Linked DNA regions of Homo sapiens. The protein of the gene in region 1 interacts with the protein of each later gene in a pairwise test. Each region holds a gene or a part of one and is shown on either strand. Other genes may lie near its edges. The genes, in order: CPNE7 and PBX4.

The links.
Region 2: the proteins of CPNE7 (region 1) and PBX4 interact in binary tests that used the Homo sapiens proteins (3 or more experiments, as listed by UniProt).

Annotation. Positions count from the first base shown.
Region 1 is NC_000016.10:89,584,801-89,594,122, forward strand, and holds part of CPNE7 (copine-7), read left to right. Parts: coding exon 1-57; intron 58-663; coding exon 664-753; intron 754-886; coding exon 887-985; intron 986-1,869; coding exon 1,870-1,956; intron 1,957-2,242; coding exon 2,243-2,302; intron 2,303-2,755; coding exon of another isoform or gene 2,756-2,794; exon of another isoform or gene 2,795-3,874; coding exon 3,875-4,008; intron 4,009-5,096; coding exon 5,097-5,151; intron 5,152-6,206; coding exon 6,207-6,258; intron 6,259-6,326; coding exon 6,327-6,460; intron 6,461-7,397; coding exon of another isoform or gene 7,398-7,400; exon of another isoform or gene 7,401-9,164; intron 9,165-9,322. UniProt on the Homo sapiens protein: Calcium-dependent phospholipid-binding protein that may play a role in calcium-mediated intracellular processes.
Region 2 is NC_000019.10:19,593,223-19,602,544, reverse strand, and holds part of PBX4 (pre-B-cell leukemia transcription factor 4), read left to right. Parts: intron 1-3,176; exon of another isoform or gene 3,177-3,179; coding exon 3,180-3,253; intron 3,254-9,322.

The DNA.
Region 1 (9,322 bases):
CTGGAGCTCTACAGGGTCAACGACGACCAGGGCTTGCAGCTGGTGTACAGGACGGAGGTGAGCGGCCGGGGATGGGAACACAGGGAGGGGAAGGGGCTGTCCCCAGCCCTCACGCATCTCTGGCCACATGGGAGGAGCTCCCAGCCTCCAACAGGGAGCTGTGGGCGCAGGGCTTTGGTGGCTGTGGCTATGGCCAGAATCCAACAGGGAGCCGCAGGCGCAGGGCCCTGGGGGCCGTGGCTGTGGCCAGAATCCAGCAGGCTTGTGTAGTCGTGGCTGTGATTATTTTTAGACCTACCTTCCACTTCCTGCAGGTGAAATGGGATTTCAGCGACGGCAGGGAGAGAGTGCTTTCTTTTGAGAGAAATTAACTTGAGTGAAAATGAATCTATTTAAGGAAGAGAGCAGCGCAGGTGGCTCAGAGGTGGCAGAAGTTACGAAGGTGGAGGCACAGGGCTCGGAAATGTGTCTCCCGGGTCCTCACATGGCTTCGTGCAGGGAGTGGGTGCCAGCCCCAGCTCAGGGCCCCGGCGCTGTCTGGGGTGATGCAGGGGCAGGGCCAGCTGTGCCCGCCTCACAGCTGCTCTTCCACCCAGGTCTCTATCCCCCCCAAGGATCCCAGGGCCCTGGGCCTCCCCTGAGCCAGCCCCTCCCGGCCCACAGGTGGTGAAGAACAACCTGAACCCGGTGTGGGAGGCCTTCAAAGTCTCTCTGAGTTCCCTCTGCAGCTGCGAGGAGACAAGGCCTCTAAAGGTGGGGGACGGGATGGACCAAGGGGGCAGTGAGGGGGTGGCCTGGATGTGGGCTGCGATGGAGACACCTGGGCTCGGGTGGGAGGGTCCTGGGGCCCCCAGACAGCAGTGCTGAGGAGGACTGGGCTCCCCAGTGCCTGGTCTGGGATTACGACTCTCGAGGAAAGCACGACTTCATCGGAGAATTCTCTACCACCTTCGAGGAGATGCAGAAGGCCTTTGAGGAGGGGCAGGTGAGCAGGACGGGGTAGGGGGTCCTCCAGGGAGGGTCAGGTGGGGGTGGAGGGGGGCCTTCGGGGAGGGGTAGGTGAGCAGGACTGGGGGGGTACCTCCAGGAAGTGTCAGGTGAGGAGGTGGGGGGTGGGGTAGGGGCCTCCGTGGAGGGGCATGTGGGTGGGCACCTCTGGGGAGGAGCAGGTTGGGGGGGCCTTTGGGGAGGTTCAGGTGAGGGGGGCCTCCAGGGAGGGGCAGTTAGCAGGGGGAGGGGGCATTCAGGGAGGGGCAGGTGAGGGGGGCCTCTGGGGAGGGGCAGGTGAGTCGGGGGCACACCTGGGCTACGCCTGTGTTGGCCCTGCCACAGAGGCTGTGAAACCCTGTCCCACTGTCCTGATGGGGTTGTGGGGAGTGGTGACAATGACTTGTTATAACCAGAGAAGGCTGAGGATGGTGGACCCTGGTGCTGGCTCCTGAGGGGTCATAGCAGGGGTGGCCCCCATCAGGTTCAGCTGGACATTTCAGGCACCATCTGGGTCTGGGCACAGGGGTGGTGGGAGGTGGGGCCAAGGGGTGCCCTCCCCTGTGTCTGCCCAGCCCACAGCAGCCGGGTGAGGGTGCAGTGGGGAGGCCACCCTGGGCCCTGCTTCCTCCCCCGTCCCTGGGCCTCAGTGTCCTTGGGCTTAATGACAGGGCCATGCCGGGTGGGGGATGCAACTCCCATCCCTCTTCATTCCCGTATGACCCACTCTGCCCCTTCCTGCTGCCCTGCAGCAGTGCCCTCCCCTCCCCTCCCCACCACGGGGCCCTCTGCCGTCGCTATTGGGGATGGTCTTGGGTAGGGTCTCCCTGGTAGGTGTTCAGAGCCACCACTCTGGGGGGCCTCTGCTTGTTCCTGCCCCAGGCCCAGTGGGACTGTGTGAACCCCAAATACAAGCAGAAGAGACGCAGTTATAAGAACTCAGGAGTGGTCGTCCTGGCTGACCTCAAGGTGAGAGGTGGCTGTGCCCGAAGCCTCCCCACCCACAAGAGGGGCTTCCGCTGCCTCCCTCTGATTGTTGGATGGACCCTCAACCAGAGGCCTGGTGGGCCCCAGCACGTCTGGGGAGGGGCTGAGAGACGGGGAAGGGCGAGGTTGGGGAGAGAGGATGGGGGAGAGGAGAGGAGGGTGGCACCCCAGAGGGACTGGGCTGCCTGCGGGAGGCAGGCCTGGATCCCAGCTGGCACTGGCCTCAGTGTCCCTGGCGGGGGTGGACGCTGACTCCGCCGGCCGGAAGTTCCACAGGGTGTACTCCTTCCTGGACTATATCATGGGCGGCTGCCAGATCCACTTCACCGTGAGTCCATGGCCCCGCCCCATGCCGCCCCCTCAGTCCGTGGCCCCGCCCCGCCCCGCCCCCTCAGTCCGTGGCCCCGCCCCTCCCCGCCCCCTCAGTCTGTGGCCCCGCCCATCCCCGCCCCCTCAGTCCGTGGCCCCGCCCCTCCCGCCCCCTCAGTCTGTGGCCCCGCCCATCCCCGCCCCCTCAGTCTGTGGCCCCGCCCATCCCCGCCCCCTCAGTCCGTGGCCCCGCCCCCGCCCCCGCCCCCGCCCCGCTCCCGAGGGGTCCCAGCCTGGCGGGTGAAAGGGCACTGGCGGTTCCCCGTGAGCCGATGTCTCCATGCGCGGCTCCTGGGGGTCCTCCCTTTTGCGCAGGCGAGGAAACGGGCTTGGGGTTCAGGAAGCAGCCCCAAGCCCGCCTTGGGAGGTGACATCACCAGGGCTTACCTTCCACAAACACATTTAACAACAGACAAAACGTGAACGAGGAGAAACTGGAGTGAGCGTTTGAGTGAACCAGCCACAGTCTCTACGTGTCATCCAAGGAGCCCGGCACAGACCCCGTGTCACCCCCATGTCACCCGCAGACCCCGCGTCACCCATAGATACGCACACCCCGTGTCACCCCCATAGCACCCCCGTGTCACCCACAGATACACGGCCCCCGTGTCACCCGCGTGTCACCCACAGAAACACGGCCCCCGTGTCACCCACAGATACACGGCCCCCCGTGTCACCCGCGTGTCACCCACAGATACACGGCCCCCGTGTTACCCACAGATACACGGCCCCCCGTGTCACCCGCGTGTCACCCACAGATACACGGCCCCCGTGTCACCCGCGTGTCACCCACAGATACACGGCCCCCCGTGTTACCCACAGATACACGGCCCCCGTGTCACCCACAGATACACGGCCCCCCGTGTTACCCACAGATACACGGCCCCCCGTGTCACCCGCGTGTCACCCACAGATACACGGCCCCCCGTGTTACCCACAGATACACGGCCCCCGTGTCACCCACAGATACACGGCCCCCGTGTCACCCGCGTGTCACCCACAGATACACGGCCCCCGTGTCACCCGCGTGTCACCCACAGATACACGGCCCCCGTGTCACCCGCGTGTCACCCACAGATACACGGCCCCCGTGTCACCCGCGTGTTATTTGCAGATGCGCTGGTTCGTGTTTTGTTGAACGAGCCCCAGAATGGCTTTGGGAGAAGCCAGCAAGTGGGAAACGTGGGGGGACCCAGACCAGGCTTGGTCCACTTAGGCCCTGCCGGGGAGGGTGGTAGAGGGGTTGGGCGGCCACTAAGAAGGATGGGCGGGGCCCCCACAAGGCCAGGGTGATCCTGGTGGGGTGTCCTCCCGGAGATCCAGGGAGCCTAGGGGCTGGCAGGTTTTGAGGAGACCTCTCCTGGCCCTGTGTAGCAGGTGGGTCAGCCCCAACAGCAGCCCCCCAGCCCTACCCACCTACGCGACCCCTGACCCTGAGTCCTGGCCACTCTGGGCGTGGTTTCTCTACCTGTCAGGAGCGGGTTCGGGGAGCCCCGGCCCAGCACAGCTCCTGGCTCCCGGCCCACTGCAGGTGGCCATTGACTTCACCGCCTCCAATGGAGACCCGCGGAACAGCTGCTCCCTGCACTACATCAACCCCTACCAGCCGAACGAGTACCTGAAGGCACTGGTGTCCGTGGGCGAGATCTGCCAGGACTATGACAGGTGCGCCCACCACCTTCCCCTCACCCCCTGGTCTCCAGGTCAGCTATGACAGGTGCGCCTGGCCGTCTTCCCCCTCACCCCCCTGGTCTCCAGGTCAGCTATGACAGGTGCACCCGGCCGGTTTTCCCTCACCCCCCTGGGCTCCAGGTCAGGCCTCGGGGCACCATGAGGTGGGCACTGTGAGTTTGTCAGACTGTGAGGGGCCGGGCGCGGTAGCTCATGCCTGTAATCCCAGCATTTTGGGAGGCCGAGGCGGGTGGATCACCTGAGGTCAGGAGTTTGAGACCAGCCTGGCCAACATGGTGAAACCCCATCTCTACTGAAAATACAAAAATTAGCTGGGCGTGGTGGCAGATGCCTGTAATCCCAGCTACTCAGGAGGCTGAGGCAGGAGAATCACTGGAACCCGGGAGGCGGAGGTTACAGTGAGTCAAGATCACACCTTTGTACTCAAGCCTGGGTGACAGAGCAAGACTCCGTCTCAAAAAAAAGAGACTCTGCGAGGAAGGGCTGGGTAGCCCTACTGGAGGCTGCCGCATAGACTCTGCACATGGTCCTGGGGGGACGTCTGTGTCCCGCTTTGCCAGAATAGCAAACCGAAGTCACAGAGGCTTGGGGCTCACCCGCGTATGCTTTACCAGGGAGGGCCCGGCACAAAACCCTGTGCTCTGAGCTTCTTACCACAACACAGACCCCTGGCCTGGGGCTTGGGAGAGGATGCCCTGAGCTCCCTACCCTACAGACCTCTCTTTCTGGGTTGGTGAGGGCCACAGTGGGTTCCTTGGCCCCACAGGACCCCTCCCGTGGTCTGAGAGCCCCCGGGGAGGCGTCTGCAGGGGGACAGCATGTACACAAACGTGGAGTTGGGAGGCAGGCTCGCGGGCGGCAGGACCGTGTCCCCTTGCACACAGGCCTGTGCCTCTGCTGCCCTGAGCCTCGGTTCCCCACCTCTGGCAGGTGCTTACTGCCGTGGTACCAGGCCTGGGCACCCCCAGTCTTTTGGGCGCCAGTCATGTCTCCCTAGAAGTGGCCCCTGTTGCAGCCACAAGAGGTCAGGGCCTCCTGGTGACCTCCTGCCTCTCTTCCAGTGACAAGAGGTTTTCCGCTTTGGGGTTTGGAGCCCGGATCCCTCCCAAGTATGAGGTAGGAGAGCCCAGAACCTGAGACCTCAGAGCTGTGCCCTTCTCGTGCCCTCCCAGGCAGAGGACGGCCTGGCCCAGGGAGCCCTGGCTGCCTGCTGGGAACCGGAGACTGTAGGATGGGATTGGGGTGCAAAGCGGGAACCCCAGCCTTCTAGCCAGAGAGGCTGGCCTTTGGCCTCCTAGGACTTGTTAGCTTGAGGGGTGTCTGGAGGCCAACTCCGTGTTCCTTCAGGAGATAGGGAAGGACGTTAGTGTGGAATCCTCTATTGCACATAACAATTCAGCTAGCTTCGGCCAGGCGTGGTGGCTCACGCCTGTAATCCCAGCACTTTGGGAGGCCGAGGCGGGCCGATTACCTGAGGTCAGGAGTTCCAGACCAGCCTGGCCATCATGGTGAAACCCCATCTCTACCAAAAATACAAAAATTAGCTGGGCGTGGTGGCACATGCTTGTAATCCCAGCTACTCGGGAGGCTGAAGCAAGAGAATTGCTTGAACCCGGGAGGCAGAGGTTGCACTGAGCTGAGATCGCACCACTGCAGTCCAGCCTGGCCTGTAGAGCAAGACTCTGTTTTAAAAAAGAAAAAAGAAAACAACAAAAAACTTCAACTGGCTTCAGCAGAAAAAATGGTGTGTGGGGATTTATTGGCTAATGTAAGCCTCAGGCACTGCTGGATCCAGGGAGGTCTGCCTCCCTCTCTGTTTCATGACTCTGCAGAACATGGTCACCCATGGGTTTGGCTTCCCCTAGAAACTCCAAGCCTACCTCTCTCAGTAGGTGGGGGACATGGGGGCCAGGTCGGGGGAGCAGCTGACTGGGGGACATGGGGGCCGGGGACGGGGGGAGCAGCTGACTGGGGGACATGGGGGCCGGGGACGGGGGGAGCAGCTGACCGAGCCCTCTTTAGTAGGCGGGGGACATGAGGGCGGGGACGGGGGGAGCAGCTGACTGGGGGACATGGGGGCTGGGGACGGGGGGAGCAGCTGACCGAGGGACATGGGGCCAGTGGGGTGTGTTGCAACGAGCAGCTGACTGAGCCCTCTTGTTCCCACCCAGGTGTCCCATGACTTTGCCATCAATTTCAACCCTGAGGACGATGAGTGTGAAGGTAGGAGCTCGAGGCAGGCCTGGGGAGGGGAGTGCAGGGGGGCCGGGCTCACCCCCTGCCCCCCACAGGCATCCAGGGCGTGGTGGAGGCCTACCAGAACTGCCTGCCCAGGGTCCAGCTCTACGGCCCCACCAACGTGGCGCCCATCATCTCCAAGGTGGCACGCGTGGCGGCGGCCGAGGAGAGCACCGGGAAAGCCTCTGTAGGTGCCCGGGGGGTGTGGTGCATGCTTGGTGTGGGGTCGGCTGTGTGTGCACCAGCGCGTGGACGTCAGGGAGGCACCTGGCAGAGGGAACAGCCAGCGCAGAGGCCCCCAGGCAGGACAGAGCTCAGGAGGGCGGGGGCCCAGCTGGTTGACTACGTCTCCCTCAAAGGTGCAGGTGTCTCGGGCACAGGGCTGTCCATCGCCTCACACGGTCACGGCCATGGCTGCAGCGAGGCTGCCCCTCTCCTCTTCCTCTGGGCACCACAAGGCCGCGCACATGTCTACTGTTTGGCTGTGTGTGTATCGTCATTTTGTTTACATGTGTCTTTCCTTTGCACAAATGATACGGTGCCGAGAACTGCACTGGATTCTACTCTGCCACCGTGTGGCCCTGTATGTGTCTCTGGGGCCACAGCCAGCCTGCTGCTTTCTTTTCTTTTCTTTTGTTTTTTGTGAGACAGAGTCTCACTCTGTCACCCAGGCTGGAGTGCAGTGATGTGATCCCAGCTCACTGCAACCTCTGCTTCCCGGGGTTCACGCCATTCTCCTGCCTCAGCCTCCCAAGGAGCTGGGACTACAGGCGCCCGCCACCACTTCTGGCTAATTTTTGTATTTTTAGTAGAGACGGGGTTTCACCCTGTTGGCCAAGCTGGTCTCAAACTCCTGACCTCATGATCCACCCGCCTCGGCCTCCCAAAGTGCTGGGATTACAGGCGTGAGCCACCGTGCCCGGCATTCTTTTTTTTGTTGTTTTTTTTTTTTGAGACGGAGTCTCGCTCTGTCACCCAGGCTGGAAGTGTAGTGGCGCAATCTCCGCTCACTGCAACCTCCCCCTCCCAGGTTCGCGCCATTCTCCTGCCTCAGCCTCCTAAGTAGCTGGGACTACAGGCGCCCACCATCATGCCCGGCTAATTTTTTTTTTTTGTATTTTTAGTAGAGACGGGGTTTCACCGTGTTAGCGAGGATGGTCTCGATCTCCTGACCTCGTGATCCACCCGCCTCGGCCTCCCAAAGTGCTGGGATTACAGGTGTGAGCCGCCGCGCCCGGCCCAAAATAATTTTAAACTCACCAAAAAGTTACAAGAGCTCTGAGGTCCTGCAACCCGTGAGGCCAACAGCTGCTCACACATTGCGCTCCTGCTTCACGTCTGTGTAGTTGTTGTATTTGTATGTTTTCTTTTTCAATTTTTTTTTTTTTTTTTGAGATAGAGTCCTGCTCTGTCACCCAAGCTGTAGTGGTGCAATCTCGGCTCACTGCAAGCTCCACCCTCCGAGTTCAAGCAATTCTCCTGCCTCAGCCTCCCGAGTAGCTGGGATTACAGGCTCCCGCCACCACGCCCGGCTAATTTTTTGTATTTTTAGTAGAGACGGGGTTTCACAGTCTTGGCCAGGCTGGTCTTAAACTCCTGACCTTGTGATCCACCCGCCTCGGCCTCCCAAAGTGCTGGGATTACAGGAGTGAGCCACCGCGCCCAGCCCAAATTTTTTTTATTGTGATAAAATATGCACAGTTTAAAATTTACCATTGTAACCATTTTTTTCTTTTCTTTTTTTTTTTTTTTTTTTGAGATGGAGTTTTACTCTTGTCACCCAGGCTGGAGTGCAGTGACGTGATCTCGGCTCACTGCAAGCTCCGCCTCCCGGGTTCACGCCATTCTCCTGACTCAGCCTCCTGAGTAGCTGGGAGTACAGGCGCCCGCCACCATACCCGGCTAATTTTTATATTTTTGTAGAGATGGGGTTTCACTGTCTTGGCCAGGCTGGTCTCAAACTCCTGACCTCAAGTGATCTGCCTGCCTCAGCCTCCCAAAGTGCTGGGATGGGATTACAGGTGTGAGCCGCCGCACCTGGCCTGTAACCATTTTATTGTATCCAGTTCAGAGGCACGAGGTACATTCATGATGATCAAACATCACCCGTCTACTTACATCTTCAAGCCAAATGGGAACCCTATATCTGTTTGCATCTATTTTTAATTTATACAGATAGTATCGTGATAAAGACTTTGATGCTTTTTAAAAAACTTGGCACTGCACACACACATTTGTGAACCGTCCGAGAGCACGTTGCAACATCACGGTTTTACCTCTTAATATTTTTTTTTTTTTGAGATGGAGTCTCGCTCTTCACCCAGGCTGGAGTGCAGTGGCGCGATCTTGGTTCACTGCAAGCTCCGCCTCCCGGGTTCACGCCATTCTCCTGCCTCAGCCTCCCAAATAGCTGGGACTACAGGCGCCCGCCACCACGCCCGGCTAATTTTTTGTATTTTTAGTAGAGACGGGGTTTCACTGTGTTAGCCAGGATGGTCTCGATCTCCTGACCTCGTGATCCGCCCACCTCGGCCTCCCAAAGTGCTGGGATTACAGGCGTGAGCCACCGCGCCCGGCCTACCTCTTACTATTTCAGTGTATATTTCCTAAGATCAAAGATATTCTCTTGTATAACCATAGCACAAATACAGATTTCAGGAAATTGAATTTAGATACAATCCTTTTATCTAATACATAGACTATATTCCAATTTCATTCATTGGCACAATCATAACTTTCAAAGCAGTATTGTTCCTGGCCCAGGAGCCAGTCCGGAGTCGAGGATTGCGTTCAGCTGTTATGTTCCTGTGTGGCTGGGAAGCGGGTCTCAGACGGTTTCATCTGTAAATGTCAGTATCAGCGTCTAATAAAGATAAGCCTCTTTTTAAGCAGCCACGACACCTGATCACACCTAACCACCACTCCTGGCATTGCACATCCGTCTGGTGTTTGTGTTTCCTGTTGTCTTACCCGTGACATGGTTTTCTGTGGTTAGAATTGGGTTGAAACGAGGACTCAGACATGATCAGCTGAGCCCTCGGTCCCTCTC
Region 2 (9,322 bases), on another chromosome or scaffold:
GGGAGGATTGCTTGAGTTCGGGCACAGCATGGCCACTGCAGTCCAGCCTGGGCAACAGAGTAAGACCCTGTCTCAAAAAGAAAAAGAAAAAAAACATGATTAACACACACCCTGTCTTTTAGCACCTGTTATGTTTGTTTGATCTCCCTTATGATAAACATCAAAGACTTTGTGATTGCTGCTTCCGCTTCCTCCTCACCTCCACATTCTCTCCCAACCTTGTTCCCTCTCCGCTGAGTCACCTATGACCTTCATGTTGCTAAATCCGAATTCTCTTTATTCATTTATTTATTTATTTATTAGAGACAGGTTCTTGCTATGTTGCCTAGACTGGTCCTCCCACCTCAGCCTCCCATAGTGCTGAGATTACAGGCGTGAGCTACCGTGCCCAGCCTCAGATTCTCTTCTGGGTTCTTATTCTGCTTGATCTCTCAGCAGCATTTCTCACAGATTACTCTTCTCTCCATGAAATTCTTCTCTTGGCTGAGCGCAGCCTGGGCAACATAACGAGACCCTGTCTCTACAACAAATACAGAATTTAGCCAGGTGTGTTGGTGCGTGCCTCTTGTCCCAGCTCATTGTCTCGCCATGTTGCCCAGGCTGGTCTCAAACTCCTGAGCTCCAGCGATCTGCCTGCCTCGGCCTCCCAAAATGCTAGAATTACAGGCATGAGCCACCGATTTTACATTTCGGTAGGTCAGAAAGCCCACATGGGCACAGTGGGCTAAAATCAAGGTGTTGCCCAGTGAGCCCATGGGCTGGTTCCTTGCCTTTTCCAGCCTGTTGAGGCCACCTGCATTCCTTGCTCATGGTCCCTTCCTCCATGATCAAGGCCAGCAACATAGTATCTCTCCAACCCTTACATCATCATGACTTTCTCTGCCCACATCTGGGAAAGGTTCTCTACCTTTAAGGGTCATGTGATGACAGTAGGCCCCCCCAGATAATCCGGGTTAATCTCTCCATCTCAAGGTCCTTAAACTTAATTACATTGGCAGAATTATTTTTCCCATTTTTTGTAAAGTACCATATTTAGGGTTCTGAGGATAAGCATGTGGACCCTTTTGGGAGCCATTATCCTGCCAACCATAGTTCCCAACCCAAGCAAGCAAAAGCCAGAGTTGTCCCCATGACTTTCAAGGCCCTTAGAGTCAATCTCCACTTGCCAGTCTAACTTCTCGTAGCTCTCTCCCTCACCCCTAACACTCAGCAGCCTGGTCTCAAACAGCCAGTACTGAACCCAGTGTGTTCTCACAGGGCCTTTGTGCTTGGCTGTTTCTTCTGCCTAAACCATACCTCTCTCCAGTCCTTTTCTTGGTTGATTTCTCCTTCTCATTCTGATCTCAGCTTTGATGTCACCTCAGAGACATGGAAATTCCAAAAAGCCTTCTAACCATCACTGTCATGTGACCCCAGTTGCCCCAGAGCAACTGCCACGGCTGATGGGTTTCTTGTTGGTGTGTATTTTTGGTGTCTCACTCCCTCCCTCTTAACTGCCACATGTGTAAAAACCTTACCTGTCTGTGTCTCTGATGCCAGAATGGTGTGTGGCACATAGTAGGTACTCAGTAAACACCTGCCAAGTGACACTGGAAGAGGATGATTGGTGCTTCTGCTTAGGCACCAGGATACACCACTGCAGGACCATAGTGTGAACACAGATTTCAAGTTGTTGGACCTTGATATTTCATAGTTCTTTTTTTTTCTTTCTTTTTTTTTTTTTTTTTTGAGATGGAGTCTCTCTCTGTTGCCCAGGCTGGAGTTCACTGGTGCGATCTCAGCTCACTGCAACCTCTGCCTCCCTGGTTCAAGCAATTCTCCTGTGTCAGCCTCCCGAGTAGCTGGGATTACAGGTGTGCACCACCACGCCCAGCTTTTTTGTACTTTTAGTAGAGACGGGGTTTCACCATGTTGGCCAGGCTGGTCTCAAATTCCTGACCTCAGGCGATCCATCCGCCTCGGCCGCCCAAAGTGCTGGGATTACAGGCATGAGCCACTGCCTCTGGCCTTTTTTTTTTTTTCTTAATGACAAGGCCTCTGTTATGCTGGCTGGAGTACAGTGGCATGTTCATAGCTCACTACAGCCTCTAACTCATGGTCTCAAGCCATCCTCCTGTCTCAGCCTCCTGAGGGATTGGGACTACAGGCATACCACCATGCCCAGCTAATTTTTAAATTTTTGAAGAGAATGGGTCTCACCATGTTGCCCAGGCCGATCTTAAATTTCTGGGCTCAAGTGGTCCTCCTGCCTTGGCCTCCCAAAGCGTTGAGATTACAGACATGAGCCACTAATGCCTTACCATAGTTTTTGATGAGTTATTTGCATTGTTTAAACTTTTGCATATAGTGGGAAATGTTTTGAATATTTGTATATTGCTTTACATTATTATTATTATTATTATTGAGACAGAGTCTCACTCTATTGCCTGGGCTGGAGTACAGTGGCACAATCTTGGCTCACTGCAACCTCTGCCTCCAAGGTTTAAGCATTTCTCCTGCCTCACCCACCTGAGTAGCTGGGATTACAGGTGCATGACACTGTTCCTGGCGAATTTTTTTTTTTTTTTTTTTTGAGATGGAGTCTCACTCTGTCACTTAGGCTGGAGTGCAGTGGCCTGATCTCGGCTCACTGCAACCTCTGCCTCCCGGGTCTAAGCAATTCTCCTGCCTCAGCCTCCTGAGTAACTGGGATTACAGGTGGGCACCACCATGCCCAACTAATTTTTGTATTTTTAGTAGAGACAGGGTTTCACCATGCTGGCCAGGCTGGTCTCGAACTCCTGACCTCAGGCAATCCGCCTGCCTTGGCCTCCCAAAGTTCTGGGATTATAGGCATGAGCCACTGTGCCTGGCCAAGTTTTGTATTTTTAATAGAGATAGGGTTTCACCATGCTGGCCAGGCTGGTCTCAAACTCCTGACCTCAAGTGATCCACCTGCCTCGACCTCCCAAAGTGCTGGGATTACAGGCGTGAGCCACCACGGCTGGCCTTTATATTGATTTTGTGCAAATCAAATTCACATGAAATATGATTGTACTGCATTTTCATAAGGCGACTTATCTACAGTCAGAGTGGCAGATCTCGTTTGGTTTGATTTCTCAGTATGGAAGATCTTTACTCTTGGGGACAAGATGATGACTATTCTTTTCTCACACCCTCCTCTGTCACCTCCCTTTCAGAAAGCATGCTCTGAATTGCCATCGGATGAAGCCTGCTCTGTTCAGCGTGCTCTGTGAGATCAAGGAAAAGACAGGTAGGCTGTTTAGAAGACACTTTCTGGCCGAGCGTGGTGGCTCATGCCTGTAATCCCAGCACATTGGGAGGCGGAGGCGGGCAGATCACCTGAGGCTGGATTCCAGACCAGCCTGACCAACATGGAGAAACCCTGTCTCTATTAAAAATACAAAAATTAGCCAGGCGTGGTGACGCATGCCGGTAATCCCAGCTACTCGGGGGGCTAAGGTAGGAGAATCGCTTGAACCTGGGAGGTGGAGGTTGCGGTGAGCCAAGATCGCGCCATTGCACTCCAGCCTGGGCAACAAGAGTGTGCGGTGAGCCAAGATCACGCCATTGCACTCCAGCCTGGGCAACAAGAGTGAAATTCTGTCTCAAAAAAAAAAAAAAAAAAAAAGGCACTTCCTGTGTGTGACTAGAGCTGCGGCAGCACACCTCTGATCTTGTCTCAGCCCTTATGTGCATGGTGGGCCGTTTTGCTCATCCCTTCTGTCTCGCAGAAGACGGCTAGGATGTTTTCTTTCTGCCTTATCATTGCCCTGGTTTCCAGTATGCACACTGATTTATTTTGTAGTTTATAACTGAGAAATACTGTTGCAAATCAGTAACAAGCAGCTGCATTCTAGGTCGAAGACCTAAGAGGTGCTTAGCATTCAGTCATATAGAAAAAGGAAAAATGACAGACTTAGGGAAATTGAATAAGAACAGTTTTGTCGGCTGGGCACAGTGGCTCATACCTGTAGTCCCAGTACTTTGGGAGGCCGAGGCAGGTGGATCACGAGGTCAGGTGTTCAAGACCAGCCTGGCCAAGATGGTGAAACCCCCATCTCTACTAAAAATACAAAATTAGCCAGGCATGGTGGCACATGCCTGTAATCCCAGCTACTTGGGAGGCTGAGGCAGGAGAATCACTTGAACCCAGGAGGTGGAGGTTGCAGTGAGCCGAGATCGCGCCATTGCACTCCAGCCTGGGCAAGAAGAGTAAGACTCCGTCTCAAAAAAAAAAAAAAAAAGGAAAGAAAAGAAAAAGAAAAGTTGAAAAAATAGTACAGAGAGTTCTCGTATCTCCTTCTCCGGGCTTCCTGTCTCGTCAACACCTTCAGAGCCATAGTACAAATATGGAAACCAGGAAATTACGCTGAGTACAATGATCTTTAACTGAACTACAGACCTCATTTGGAGTTCCCCAGTTTTTGCCCTAATGCCCTTTTCTGCCCTGAATCCCACGTTGTATTTAGTCATCATGTCTCTTTGGTCTCCTGTGATCTGTGACCTTGTCATCCATGAATGACGCTGACCATTTTAAGAAGCGCTCAGTCATTTTGTAGAACATCCCTCAGTGCGGTTTGTCTGATGTTTCCTCTAGATTGGACTGAAGTTGTGCATCTGTGGCCAGAGTCCCACAGAGGCAATGTGTGTGTCCTCAGCACATTGTGTCAGGGAAAACATGCTGTCAATATGTCCTGTCACTGCTACCATTGACCTTGATCACTTGGTCAAGGTTAATAACAATTTGAAAGTAGCTTATAAGTGGGGCCACCAAATAAGATGAAGATATTTAAACCAAGGGTCATCTGCACAACGTGTCACTTGATTTCTTAGAGTGAGTTGGTCTCTTGAGGTCAATTATTTGAATTTTGTGTGTCACTTTGGAGCATAGCACTTCATATTTGCTGAGGCTTGTGGAAAGTGTGTGTATATGTTGTACAAAAGTGTGCTTCTTTCTGAACACTGTTTTGGTGCAAGATTGATGTGTACTTGACATATATAGTAGTTGAGAACAGCAAGAGGGTCTGAATTCTGCCTCCACCTCTGGCTGCATGACCCTGGTCCTTGGCTGAACCTTTCTCTGTTCCTGGTCCTCCTCTGATTTGTGGGGCAATAATAATACTTAGCTCATGGTTACTGAGGACTGTTGAGGGCTGTGTGAATTCATATATGTAAGGCTGTGGGCATGGTGCCCAGCCTTCAGAAGAGATCTGGTGACTAAAGGAGAAATTCAAGTTTAAATCTACATTTAAGTTTCGCCTAAATGCTATGAGGACATGATGTCCCTAACCCTCCCCAGTGTAAATTTATTTTTATTTTTATTTTTTGGAGATGGAGTTTCACTCTTATTGCCCAGGCTGGAGTGCAATGGCACGATCTTGGCTCACTGCAATCTCCGCCTTCCAGGTTCAAGCAATTCTCCTGCCTCAGCCTCTGAGTAGCCGGGATTACAGGCGCCTGCCACCACACCCAGCTAATTTTTTGTATTTTTTATTAAAGATGGGGTTTCACCATGTTGGCCAGGCTGGTCTTGAACTCCTGACCTCAGGTGATCCGCCTGCCTGTCTGCCTCCCAAAGTGCTGGGATTACAGGCGTGAGCCATCACACCTGGCCTTTTTTTTTTTTTTTTGGAGACAGGGTCTCACTCTGTCACCCAGGCTGGAGGGCAGTGACATAATCTTGGCTCACTTCAGCCTCCTGGGTGGGTGATCCTCACACCCCATCCTCCCAAGTAGCTGGGACTACAGGCACGAGCCACGTTGCCCAGCTAATTTTTGTATTTTTTGTAGAGAGAGGGTTTTGTCATGTTGCCCAGGCTGGTCTCAAACTCCTGGCCTCCCAAAATGCTGGGATTATGTGTGTGAGCCACTGTGCCCAACCAGGCTCATATTCTGTTCTGCCTCTGCCTGCTTCACCCAATTCTCTAAGGAGCCCTGATTCCTTTCAGAGTAAATCTTGGCCTTTGATGTGCTCATTGCTGTTGGGGTGTTGCTGCTCTTGGACACTCTTAGGACACAGAGCTAAGGAATATTTGTGGGTTATTACAGATGCGTGTGTACACACACACACGTGCGCACACATTCACATCTGTTTTCCTATGTTTTTATATATTAAAAACCATGAGTTCATTATGATATCTTTATTTTTGTTTGTTTATTTATTTATTTATTTATTTATTCTCACTCTGTTGCCCAGCCTGGAGTGCAGTGGTGCAATCTCAGCCTCCCAGGTTCAAGCATTTCTCCTGCCTCAGCCTCTGAGTAGCTGGGATTATGGTGTGCACCACCACGCCTGGCTAATTTTGTATTTTTAGTAGAGACAGGGTTTCATCATGTTGGCCAGACTCGTCTCAAACTCCTGACCTCAAGTGACCTGCCCGCCTCAGCCTCCCAAAGTGCTGGGATTAGAGATGTGATCCACCGCACCCAGCTTATTTTTATTTTTGAGACAGGGTCTCACTCTGTCACCAGGCTGGAATGCAGTGGTGAAGTCACAGCTCATTGCAGCCTCAACCTCCTGGGCTCAAGCAATACTCCCACCTTGGCCTCCCAAAGTGCTGGGATTACATGCATGAGCCACTGTACCTGGCCCACTCCAATATCTTTAATTCTAGTTCACCACAGGGTTCCCACTATTTTTCTCTCTTCCCAGGTTTGTGACTCCTTCCTCCAACAGTGAGAGCCTGCTCCTGTTGTCCTCAGTACTTTTGCTTGTGTAATCAATCTCCCACCTCCTTCACCCCCAAGTATACTTAATCCCCCAGCCAAGCAGACCCCTCCTTGTCCCCACCCCCCAGCAGACTGCTGCTGCTGACAGCCCCCACATGATATGCCCCCTGTTGGTCTCCAACACCCAGTGCCAGGTCATCCTCCCGACGGGGCCAGATGCTGGGCTGTGATGCCCCTGGCTTCCTGCCCACCTCATATGCCTCTCATGGGTATGTAAATATCTGATGACCTGTCTTATCTGTTCCTTATTTAAATTGTGGGGAGCAGATGCCATGGAAATGGAAACACAAAGGTTAGGCTTTCCTGGGGAACCAGACACACAAGTTTCTTGTTAGCGGTGAACTGGTTTTAAGCAAATTTGCCCTCAACTCCCTGGCAGCACTCCCTGATGGTGCTTCAGCATTCGTGTGGTAAGCTGGACAAGCGGGGGCCCTGTACCCGAATGAGCCCCAAGTACTGCAGGCTGAGGGAAGCCGCTCAGAAGGACACAGCCAATGTGTATCCACCCCCTGGAGACACTGGCTGTGGTCACGTGTTTCTTAGTATTGTGGAATTGTGTAATGTTGGTCCCTTTCACTTTTCACCTAATAAAAATAAGCCAGTGTCAGGACCACTTGCTGAGGCATGTGTACCAATAGGCACAGGCAGCCCAAGTTGTCCCTTGCTCACCCCTGACCCTGACCCCAGGAAGCAGCCTTTGGGGGCTCCCCACTGCCCACAGCGGATGTTTAGCAATGCAACATCTGGAATTTAGTAATAATAAAAAACTATTTTAAAAAGTACTTTTTAAAGGCTGGGTGCGGTGGCTCACGCCTGTAATCCCAGCACTTTGGGAGGCCGAGGCAGTTGGACCACCTGAGATCAGGAGTTCGAGACCAGCCTGACCAACATGATGAAACCCCGTCTCTACTAAAAATACAAAAATTAGCTGGGCGTGGTGGCATGCGCCTGTAATCCCAGTTACTCAGGAGGCTGAGGCAGGAGTATCACTTGAACCCAGGAGGCAGAGGTTGCAGTGAGATGACATTGCGCCACTGCACTCCAGCCTGGGTGACAGAGTGAGACCCTGTCTAAAAAAAAAAAGTACTTTAATCAACTGTAGTCTCAGGAAGCTGTCATTCTTGACCTTCCTACCAGTGAGCTGCTGGGGCTGAACGAGAAACCAATTTTTGAGAGTGTGGGTGTTCAGCCTGGGCACGCCTCTTCATAATTCCATCTGCCCCTGTGTGGATGTTACTGCATGAGTCTGTTAGTCTCAAATTCAGCAGTTTCAGGAGGGAAAACAAGAGTTGATACCAACTGTTGCCAGTGCAGCTGAGATGTCTGTCCATTTCAACCGCTGGTGTCGCCCCACCTCCCTACCCCCATCTGCCTAGGCTTTGAGGGCCATGCTCAGGACTCTTTTTTTTTTTTTTTTAGACAGAGTTTCACTCTTGTTGCCTAGGCTGGAGTGCAATGGCGCAATCTCGGCTCACTGCCTCCCAGGTTCAAGCAATTTTCCTGCCTCAGCCTCCCGAGTAGTTGGGATTACAGGCATCTGCCACCACACCCGGCTAATTTTTTGTATTTAGTAGAGACAGGGTTTCACCCTGTTGGTCAGGCTGGTCTTGAACTCTTGACCTCAGGTGATCCGCCCGCCTCGGCCTCCCAAAGTGCTGGGATTACAGCCATGTGCCACCATGCCCGGCGACATTTTTAATTTTTTATTTTTTATTTTTTTTTTTTTTTAATTAAGACACAGAGTCTCACTGTGTTGCCCAGATTGGCTTCAAACTCCTGGGCTCAAGTGATCCTCACACCTCAGCTTCCGCACACACCACCATGTCTAGGGGTCGCTGAGGACTATTTTTGGGGGGATGAGGTCTTAGTATGTTGCCCAGGTTGGCCTTGAACTCCTGAGCTCAAGTGATCCTCCTGCCTCAGCCTCCCAAGGTGTGGGGTTACAGGCAGGCGCCACTGTGCCTGGCCACTCAGGACTTTTGATTCCTCCAAGCTGAGTCCCAAGGCCGCTGCAGGGCTCAGAGCACCGGCCACCTGGGCATTTCCTTGGAAGCTAATGCTTTCTTCCCACTGACTGGCTCAAACATCTGGGTACAGGGTATGTTTTGGGGTACAGTAGGACAGGGATGAGACAGCAACTGCTCCTCCCTGAAATGCACAAGCCTGGAGCTGAGGGATGCCTGTTCCTGAGTGTCACCTGGAGTGTCCAGGTATCTTTTTATATCAGGAAGTGCAGTCAGTGAGTGCTGTGGGTCCCACCTGTGGGCCACCTGCCTTGATGTCAGGAACACCTCAGCCTTCTAGTCTCGGAGACAAACCAGCCAGTGGCAGGAAAGTAAACAGGATTTCGATTCTGCTCCATCTGTCCTCATCCCGTGACTAGGAATGGCCAAGTCTCAGCCCAGAGGAAACTGTTCATGGTCCTGATCCTGCACCCTGTGGTACCCACGGGCCGCCTCTTGAAGGGCAATCCCATGAGCCGGGGTCCTGGCGTGCTTCTCGATTTAACCCACAGTTCTCACATTTCCCTCTGGCTGAAGTCTGCAGCAGGCCTTATGGTAAAGACCAAACTTCCACAGAGCATTTAAAG